Linked DNA regions of Homo sapiens: region 2 is linked to region 1. Evidence: fine-mapped expression QTL. A gene starts in region 1. The other region holds a variant in brackets. All regions are shown on one strand. Distances are from middle to middle.

Region 1 (5,370 bases):
AAATATATATATATATATATATATATATATGTTTTTCATAGAGCCTGGCAGGTAAAGCAAAATTGTCCTCTTGACTCTTCTTCTGCCATCGTTGCTCCCTCACTGGAATTTAAAGTAAATTAAATCGACCGGGAGCAGTGGCTCACGCCTGTAATCCCAGCACTTTGGGAGGCCAAGGTGGGTGGATCACCTAAGGTCAGGAGTTCGAGACCAGCCTGGCCAACATGGTGAATCCCTATCTCTACAAAAATACAAAAATTAGCTGGGCATGATGGCAGTGGCTGTAATTCCAGCTACTGGGGAGGCTGAGGTGGCAGAATTTCTTGAACCCAGGAGGCAGAGGTTGCAGTGAGCCAAGATCATTCCATTGTACTCCAGCCTGGGTGGCAGAGCAAGACTTCGTCTCAAAAATAAATAAAATAAATAAATATATTTAGATGTTTTGGGCATCAGCATGGAGAGATCCATTGGAGATCTTATGGTTTGGTCAAACCTGTTTTACAGGTGGGGAAACTGATGTGGAGAGTGGCAGGACCTGGCTTCACCATCCTGGTTAGGGATCTCCTGTCATCAAAGAAGATTCTAGTCTGCTCCTTTCCAGATCTCTGAGCCCTGCAGAAACAACAGGTGGCTTCCTCTTCTTCCTCTGTAGAGGGTGAAACCCAGAGGCCAAGACTGGGAGGAGGGTTCTGGGCTTTCATCCATACTCTCTAGCTCCTAACATTGCCCAGAGGTGGGCCACCCTGCCTACCCATCAGCCTCCCCCTGCCCCTCTGCCAAATCTGGACATAATTATAGTAATTATACTGCATATAAACAGTATAGGTAACTGCTTCTGAGCATAATTACAGGAGATGTTTACATACTCACAACAGCATCAGAGTAAATGATAGCTTACTTTCCCCTTAATACTTAGATATCAGGGACCTATCCGGGATAATTAGCCAAATCTCAGTAGTGAGGGTGTGGTAAAGACCTTACCGTTTCCCACTACCTGCAAAGCAGGAAGGCACCTCAGACAAAGCAGGGTCCCAGCCAAGATTTCACAGGACATCAAGAAGCCTGCAGAGAAGTGGGCTAACATCTACTGGGCACCTACTGTATGCAGGCGCTCAGGGGAGGCCAGCAAACACAAGCGAGTTCTTTCAACCTATTAACAATTCTGCAGGCTGATATTAGTGTATCCTCACTTTACAGGTCCGGACATGGGTTCTCAGAAGCTTAGTGCACAGGGTCACCCACAGCGAGCCATGGAGCTGGGCATGGGCGCTTTCCACGGTGCTACCCGGTCACAGCAGCGGGCCAGCTCTGCCCTCTTCCTTTATCGCCTCTTCTCACTTCTCACAGCTTCCTCTTCCTGGGCGGCCTCCTGCAGCCCCTGCTGGCCGCGGGTCTCCGCTCAGTTCCCCAGTGTCAAGGCCGTCTACTGCCCCCTCCGCCCCTTCTTCCTGTCCCTGTTGTGTGGCTGGGTGTTATCTCTCCAGTAGAAGGGGGTGGGGTGGGTGGAATGGGGAAGGGTGGAGCACAGGGCGAAGGCCTTGCCAGGCATCCCGGGGTCTCCAGCTAAGCGAGGGGCCGCAGGGAGCGCGGCCTCGGGGTCGCCAGACCCTCGGCTTCCAACCACCCGCACACACAAAGGCTGCCCCGGCATGCGCGGGAGAGCGCGCTCGCACCCACGGCCGTGCGCACACACGCACAACTGCACAAAGACGTGCACACTCCTCCATCCACACCAATACACTCCCTAATAGGGCCCGCACACAGCCGTGCGCCCTCACATACACCACACCACCACCACCACCACCACACACACACACACACACTCTCACACGGACTCGCACGCGGGTGGACCCCCTCCCCCACCACAAACGCCGACCTTGGGGCCCTGACGCGTCCCGCCGCGCTGCCCTGCCTCGCTGGGCGGCGCGCGCACACGCAGACGCGCACACACACACACATACACACACGCACACACCCCGCGCGGTTCCACGCCCCTGGCCGCGGCCCGGGCGCTGCGCTGCTCGACGCGGCGGGCGGCGGGCGGGGACCGGGGGCGGGGGCGGCGGCGGCGGCCGGGAGAGCGGAGGAGGCGGAGCAGGGAGCCGGGAGCGGGCTGGCCCGCGCTCCTCCTGCTGGCTGGGGATTTTCCAGCCTGGGCGCTGACGCCGCGGACCTCCCTGCGACCGTCGCGGACCATGGGCGACAAAGGGACCCGGTGAGTGCAGGGCGGCCGCCCGGCGGGGGGCGCGTGGGGGCGACCTCGGCGAGGACACGGGCGGGGGCTCCGATTGCGTCCTGGTTCTGCGTTCGCGGCCACCGCGGGATCTAGTACCAGCTCTCCTCCACCCGAGGTCTCCTGTGTGGTCTCCCCGGCAGGGCCGTGGGCGGGGGGACCCAAAGGGCGAGGGCCGGGCCGCCCCATGTGGGCCGCAGCTCCTGGCCCGGACACACAGCTCGCTGACACCCAGCATTGGCCGGCAGCCGCAGAGACGCACGGGGGCAGGTTGACACACAATACACGCACGGGCACACTAACCCGTGGCACAGGCATGCTGGCGCACACACTGGCAACCGCTAGCACACGCTCATCACACGCAGTGGCACGCCGTCATACACGCCTCGGTCAACACATTCTTGCTGACAGCCTTGTTGGCATGCACAGCTCACAATCCAACACACACCAATTCTAGCACACCCTCGTGCTGGCACACACGTGTGGGCATACACTGATACGCACACTGTCACCTGCACTCGCTGTAGCAAACACTCTTGCTGGCACACACATCACCCTCACTGGCACACACACTTGTGCTGGCATGTCTCACCAACACAGCGGAGCGCAAGGCCACACCAACACTGACCCCCACAGACACAATCAGACTGATGCCCTCAAAGACTGGCACCCCACAGGCACGAGCTGCTAGCCCAAGGCCCGCTGACACACACGCTTCAGGCCCCACATGGCCAGAAGTGGAAACACACACATCACACAGGGTAGAGCGCCCCCCGCCACCCCCAGCCTGGGGAAAACAGATCGCATTTCATCCAAATAGATCCCATCCATCTACTCTGTTCCCTTTCCCTCTGACCTCCTGAGGAGTGGCTGGCCAGGGGCTGTTTTGAACCTAGGGCTGGGAGAACCCCTCCCGTTCTCCTAGAACCTGTCCTGAAATACTCAGAAACAGTCTCTGCCTCTGAAAGGGGAAACTGGGACAAAAGGAGGAGGGGGCTGGAGCAGGACAGCCCCTGGGGGCAGCCCTTCAGACAGGACCAGCGCTGGTCAGGGGCTCAGCGTTGCCACCCTATTTTCCCCGTTGCCCTCCCCACCCCCTAAGTGGGCACAGCAGCCTCTCCCTGGGCTCCCCCTCTTTCTCATTGTTTTCTGTCTTTCTCTTCTATTCTTGTGTCCGACTTCTGCCTCCTTCCTTTCCTCCCCTCCCCTCTCCTCGTTTCCATTTATTATTAAGCTCTTGCTGTATACTAGGCGTAGTGTGGGGGATCAAAGATGCGCAAGGCCCACTCCTCCCCTGAAGGAGCTAACAGACTAGAGAGACACCACCCCGGTGGGCACCACCTTTCAGGGCCACTGACAAAGCTATTTCTCACCCACTGCCATCTAAGACTCTCTCTCCACAGTGTGAGAAAGGGCTTGCAGAGATTATTTCCATTTTCTAGAGGAGGAAACAGGCTCAGAGGCAACTCAGGCTCTTAATGTTTAGAAACTACTTTCCAGCCATCCTCCTGACAGCTCTTCCAGGAGGTTAATTTTCCTCTTCCTGTTTTCTAGCAGAGGAACCAGAGGGCTAGAGGCCATGTGATTTGCCTAAGGTCAAAAGGGGCCAGAGGCAGGGCGGAGGCTGGAGTCCACTTGGTCATGTCTCTGTGGATGGCCCTAGGGCACTGCCAGGCCCCTCATGGGCCAGGGAGGGGAGCCCTGCTCTGTGCTGGAGGCCCAGGCTTTGGGGGGGACGGCAGAAGATCATGCTGTGTCTGCATGAACCTTGATGGCTAGTCCCCATTGCAGCTGGCTGGCCAGCACTGTGACCTAGGCCTCTGTCCTCAGTAGGAAGGTATGTGACTCCTTCCCCAGCCACATCCATCTGCCCTGAAATTAAGACCCTCTTGACCCATGAGGTCAGGCTTTTCTTCCTGCAGGGCATAGCAGGGAGTCGGAGCCATTCTCCACTCCATTGTCCTTCCTAGGCTGCCTTGTGATCGGAGTGACTCAGCCTCTCTTGGGTCTCTCTGTACCTCTCTGTGACTTGGGGGATAAGTGTCATTGTTGTCCTGCTGACATGATTGTCAGGAAGATGTGGACACCATGGGCTTCCAGGCACCTGTTGGAGACCCTGTCTCTGAGGCCAAGGTATTTTCCATGGCTCCCCCTGCCCTGCCTCAAACTCACTGGTGGACCTTTGGGACATTGGGCAATTGCCTTTACTTTTCCGGACGTTAGTTTCCCATCTGTAAACTGGAGCTATCAATACTTACATTTTAGGGCTTCCCTTGTACTTACTGACTTCACTGGGCAGGGGAAGAGGCACTGCCTGAAGCCTGGAGCCAAGGCCCGGCTAAATCCACCTGATGGTGGCCCAGACCTCCCCTTCAGACTCTCCTGCAGCCCCATGAGGCCTTTCTGTCCCTTTCCGGACAGTTGGCTAAGTAATTTGGAAAAGAAGGGCAAAATCAGTAATGGGCTGTACCTTGTCTTTTTCCGTAAGGCATGAGTACCTATGACTTAGAAGAGGAATCTGCAGATATCAAAAACTGAACATCAGGAATCATCGCAACCATCCCTCCATCTGGAATTGCACCCCCATGTGAAAGTGACAATGAAAATTTATCACAAACTGTCATTGCCCTCTAGGAACTCCCAGGGTCAAGGGGGAAAGAGGTGTTAAATACCTGGACAGGGCTGTGCGCGGTGGTTCACGCCTGTAATCCTAGAACTTTGGAAGGCTGAGATGGGCAGATTGCTTGAGCTCAGGAGTTCGAGACCAGTCTGGGCAACATACCATCTCTACAAAAAACACAAAAATTAGCTGAGTGTGGTGGCACATGCCTATAGTCCTAACTACTCTGGAGGCTGAAGTGGGAGGATCACTTGAGCCCTGGAGGTTAAGGCTGCAGTGAGCCATGATCATGCCACTGCACTCCAGCCTGGATGAGAGAGTGAGACCCTGTCTGAAAAAATAAAAAAAAAAAATACCTGGACAGGACTAATCACAGGGCAGGAGTATGATGGTTGCTGCAAGGTGCTCTGGGAACAATCATATATTCATTCAACAAATGTTGATGAGTGCCTTCTGAGTGCCCAGGGCCTGGGGATTCAGCAAGGAAGGAGTCTACTCTGTCCTCCAGGGATTTAGA
Region 2 (5,370 bases), 28 kb before region 1:
AATGCTAACTTTCTAAAATCTGCATTTGCGTAACAGCATTTCAACACTTTAGGACAATTATTGTTTGGCAACACATATAAACTACTGAGAGCTGTCTCGGCAGCTGTGCTGCCCAGAGATGGACCTGACATCGCTCTGATCAAAACCCTTGTCAGTGGTGCTTGGACTGGGCCGTTATGATATCACCTCCTGTCATCTCCTGCCAAATGGAACCAATGCTCTGCCAACTAAGATTTTTTTTAACAACCTAAAAAAAAGAGGTTATCCATTTAAAAAAACAACTTTTTAAAACAATTCAATTGTTGGCTAATAAATGGCTACCACTTCTTGAGTGCTTGTGAAGTGTCAGGTGTTATTTATTTATTTACTTATTTTGAGACGAAATCTCGCTCTGTTGCCCAGGCTGGAGTGCAGTGGCGCAATCTCGGCTTACTGCAAGCTCTGCCTCCCGGGTTCACGCCATTCTCCTGCCTCAGCCTCCTGAGTAACTGGGACTACAGGTGCCTGCCACCACGCCTGGCTAATTTTTTGGGTATTTTTAGTAGAGACGGGGTTTCACCGTGTTAGCCAGAATGGTCTTCATCTCCTGACCTCGTGATGCACCCGTCCTGCCCATCTCGGCCTCCCAAAGTGCTGGGATTACAAGCGTGAGCCACCATGCCCAGCCAGTGTTTTTTATTTTTTAAACTTGTCTTAGCACATTTAATTCCCACAATGTTATGAATTAGATTCTCTGTTTCACAGAGGAGGAGACAGCGCACAGAGCCAGGAAGGGGTGGAGGTAAGATTAGCTCCAGAGTCTGAGCTCCACCCCATGCCATGTGCCCTGTCCAGCCTCCCAGATGAGCAGCCTCCCGCTGGAAGGCCCAAGCTCCATAGAGCAGCCTGCAAGGGGTTCTTCACCCGCTGCCTGCACCCCACCTTTCCAGCCTCAGCCCCAGACCAACCTCTGCTCTGTGCACACTAGCTCTTCTTTCCCCAGTTGATTTTCAGGCCTCTATGTCTTTGTGGATCCCTTTCCCCTGAGCAGCCTTGTCTACTTTTCACCAGCAAAATCTGTTCCCTCCAACCCTTAGGCCTCACCTTCAAGGCTCTTGCCTCTGTGAAGCCCCTTCAGCTACCCCACCGCCACCCGACCTGCCCTGTTCTCTGGGTCTGTGTTCCAGCTCTTGGTTCAGGCCTCCATGCAGACACCTGTCATGTGACATCACTGTGAGTTATGCTGGAATCCAGTTCCTCATACCAGGGTGTCAGCTTCTGCATGATGACAAGGAGCAAGCCCAGGCCCAAGCTGAGGATCCTGACAGACCGTGGCTTGGTTTCTGGTTCTGCCACCTCCTTTGTGGGTGCCTCGAACAAAATACTTAATTCATTGTGCCTCAGAGGGGTCCTGAGTGTTTTTGGCAATATGTGTAAAGTTCCTGATACACAGTAGATGCTTCATAAATGCTGGTTTCTTATTATCAAAGACAATGACTGTGTTATATTTTTCTCTGAATTTAAAAAAAGCTTCTGTATGATCATAAAATGACATAAACAGTGAATTGATGTGAAAGGCAACTTGGTAATAACCTTGAACATTTTAAATACACTTGCCCTTTGACCCAGCAGTTGCGCTTCTAGTGCTTCCAGGAAATTATCCTGCAAATACATTCCTATAGGTGAGATATTGTATATGCACAAAAATATTCACTATAGCAAAATATTGGAAGCCACCAAAATGTCCAACGCTAGGGAACTGTTCAAAATTGTACTGTGTCCATCAGATGGGATACTATGAATCATGTACAATAATGAGATACCTCTATGTGTATTGGGATAAGCCATTTTCCAGGATTTAAAAAAATTCCAGGTGCAGTGGCTCATGCCTGTAACCCTAGCACTTTCGGGAGGATCATATGAGCCCAGGAGTTCAAGACCAGCCTGGGCAATGTGGCAAAAACCCATCTCTACAGAAAATAGAAAAAAAAATAACTAGCCAGGTGTGGTGGTGCATGCCTATAGTTCCAGCTACTTGGGGGGCTGAGGCAGGAGGATTGCTTGAACCCAGGAGGTTGTGGCTGCAGTGAGGCAAGATCACTGCATTCCAGTCTGGATGACAGGGTAAGACCCTGTCTCATAAAAAAAAAAAAAAAAGAAAGAAAGAAAAGTGCAGAACACTGTGGAAAATGTTACAATTTGTTTAGTTTAGTTTATTTTTTGAGACGGAGTCTTGGAGTCTTGTTCTGTTGCC[T/C]GGGCTGGAATGCAGTGGCATGATCTCGGCTCACTGCAACTTCCACCTCCCGGGTTCAAGTGATTCTCATGCCTCAGCTTCCTGAGTAGCTGGGATTACAGGCGCCCACCACCATGCCTGGCTAATTTTTGCATTTTTAGCAGAGATGGGGTTTCAACATGTTGGCCAGGCTGGTCTTGAACTCCTGACCTCAAGTGGTCCGCCCACCTCGGCCTCCCAAAATGCTGGGATTACAGGCATGAGCCACCATGCCTGGTTGACAATTTGTTTAAAAACCAAAAGGAAAGCCTGTACATCCAAGTGCTTATATATGCATTGAATATCTCTGGAAGGAAACACCAGAAACTTCTTTCAGACACGGTCTTTCAATGGGAGCTGGCTTCAGATCTATGGAAAGGAGATTTACTTTTTACTGACTCTTTTTTTTTTTTTTTTTTTTTGAGACAGGGTCTGGCTCTGTTGCTCAGGCTAGAGTGCACTGGTGCAATCACAGATCACTGCAGCCTTGACCTCCTGGGCTCAAGTGATCCTCCCACCTCAGCCTCCCAAGTAGCTGGACTACAAGCATGTGCCACCACATCTGGCTAATTAAAAAAAATTTTAAAGTAAAGATGAGATCTTATTATGTTGCCCAGGCTGGTCTTGAACTCCTGAGCTCAAGCAATCCTCCTGCCTCGGCCTCCCAAAGTGCTGACATTACAGGCGTGAACCACCGTTCCTGGCTCACTGATGATTTTTGACTGTTGTATGATGTGCAGGTATATGAGTTAATAAATTTTAAAAACATAAAAAATAAAAAATGCCCCGTCCGGGAGGTGGGGGGCAGTCCCCGCCTGGCTGCCGCCCCGTCTGGGAGGTGGGGGGCGCCTCTGCCCAGTTGCCCCGTCCGGGAAGTGAGGAGCCCTTCTGCCCGGCCGCCACCCCATCTGGGAGGTGTACCCAACAGCTCATTGAGAACGGGCCATGATGACGCTGGCGGTTTTGTCGAATAGAAAAGGGGGAAATGTGGGGAAAAGAAAGAGAGATCAGATTGTTACTGTGTCTGTGTAGAAAGAAGTAGACATAGGAGACTCCATTTTGTTCTGTACTAAGAAAAATTCTTCTGCCTTGGGATGCTGTTAATCTATAACCTTACCCCCAACCCCGTGCTCTCTGAAACATGTGCTGTGTCCACTCAAGGTTAAATGGATTAAGGGCGGTGCAAGATGTGCTTTGTTAAACAGATGCTTGAAGGCAGCATGCTCGTTAAGAATCATCACCACTCCCTAATCTCAAGTACCCAGGGACACAAACACTGTGGAAGGCGGCAGGGCCCTCTGCCTAGGAAAACCAGAGACCTTTGTTCACATGTTTATCTGCTGACCTTCCCTCCACTATTGTCCTATGACCCTGCCAAATCCCAAGAATGATCAATAAATACTAAAAAAATTAAAAAAAAAAATAAGGCCGGGCACAGTGGCTCACGCCTATAATCCCAGCACTTTGGGAGTCCGAGGCGGGCAGATCACCTGAGGTCAGGAGTTCAAAATCAGCCTGGGCAACATGGTGAAACCCCATCTCTACTGAAAATACAAAATTAGCCGGGCGTGGTGGCACATGCCTGTAATCCCAGCTACTTGGGAGGCTGCGGCAGGAGAATCGCTTGAACCTGGGAGGCCAGGGATGCAGTAAGCCGAGATCGCGCCATTGCATTTCAGCCTGGGCAACAAGAGTAAATCTCTGTCTCACCAAAAATAAATAAAATAAAATAAAAATAAAAATGAACATCCAAAGATATTCGATCTCTACCATTGTAAGGGAAATGCAAATTAAAACAATAAGATGCTACTTTTCGCCTGTCAGATTGCCAGCATTTGAAAGCCTGGTGTCAGTCCTGCCATACCTTGCTGGTGGTAGAGTATAATGGTATAGCTAATTTTTTTTTTTTTTTTTTTGAGACAGCGTCTTGCTCTGTCACCCAGGCTGGAGTGCAGTGGTGTGATCTAGGCTTACTGCAACCTCCACCTCCTGAATTCAAGCGATCTTCTGCCTTAGCCTCCCAAGTAGCTGGGACTATAGGCGCTCGCCACCACACCCGGCTAATTTTTGTATTTTTAGTAGAGATGGGGTTTCACCATATTGGCCAGGCTGGTCTCGAACTCCTGACCTCATGGTCCGCTGGCCTCAGCCTCCCAAAGTGCTGGGATTACAGGTGTGAGCCACCGTGCCCAGCCGATACAGCTAATTTTAAAGCAACTTAGCAGAATCTAGTAGAATACACTGCCCCCATGACCACAGGATCCCATTTTCCAGTGTCAGTTCCAAGCAGAAGATAGAACTCTGTCCCTGCCATGCTCAACATCAGCTCAGCAGCAGCAGCTACCTCTGCATGGGCACGGGGACCAGGCTGTAGGAGCTGGTCCAGAAAGGACGCCTCACCATGCCCAGCTAATTTTTTTTGGTATTTTTTAGTAGAGATGGGGTTTTATTATTTTGGCCAGGCTTGTCTCGAACTCCTGACCTCAAGTGATCCTCCCGCCTCAGCCTCCCAAAGTGCTGGGATTACAGGCATGAGCCACCATGCCCAGCCAACATCTGTGGTAAGTTTAAGAGTCTCTTGCCACAATGGCTTGGGGGTAGGAAGGCAGGTGCGTCAAGGGTATGAGGAGGAGAGTTCTGGGTGCTCTAGTACCCATTGATACTTTGGTCTGGAGAATTCTTTGTTGTGGCGGGGGTATCCTATGCCCTACAGGATGTTTAGTAGCATCCTTCCCCTCTCTCACTAAATGCCAGTAGCACCCCGCACCCCCCTACAGTTTGACAACCAAAAGTGTCTCCACACATTGCCAAATGTCACCCAGGGATAGGGTTGCCAGACTTAGCTAATAAAAGTTCAAACCACCCAGTTAAATTTGAATTTGTATTTCATACATATAACAAATTTTTTTTCTAGAATTGGACAACACCTCATTCTATAAAACAGAATGAATGTTCCTACAAATAACTTTTCAGTATAAGGATGCCCCAAATGACATATTGAGTAGAGAACATACTTATACTGAAAAAGTACTTATTTATCTGATTCTAAGATTTCACCTGGTGGCCTGCATTTTTCTGGCAATCTTAGGGGTGAGGGTGGAGGACTGCCCTGTGTTGAG

What was found.
Region 2: its variant is fine-mapped to the expression of ARRB1 in whole blood (TOPMed, PIP 0.97).

Annotation. Positions count from the first base shown.
Region 1 is chr11:75,348,433-75,353,802 of GRCh38, reverse strand. ARRB1 (arrestin beta 1) reads left to right here and starts at 2,142. Exons shown (of 16, transcript NM_004041.5): 1 at 2,142-2,215. The coding sequence starts at 2,196. RefSeq lists enhancers at 934-1,889, 2,952-3,001 and a silencer at 2,122-2,401.
Region 2 is chr11:75,376,679-75,382,048 of GRCh38, reverse strand. No RefSeq gene overlaps it. Among named protein-coding and RNA genes, the nearest start is that of RPS3, 20 kb to the left of the region's middle. RefSeq lists an enhancer at 220-868. The variant T/C (reference allele first, on the strand shown) is at 2,234.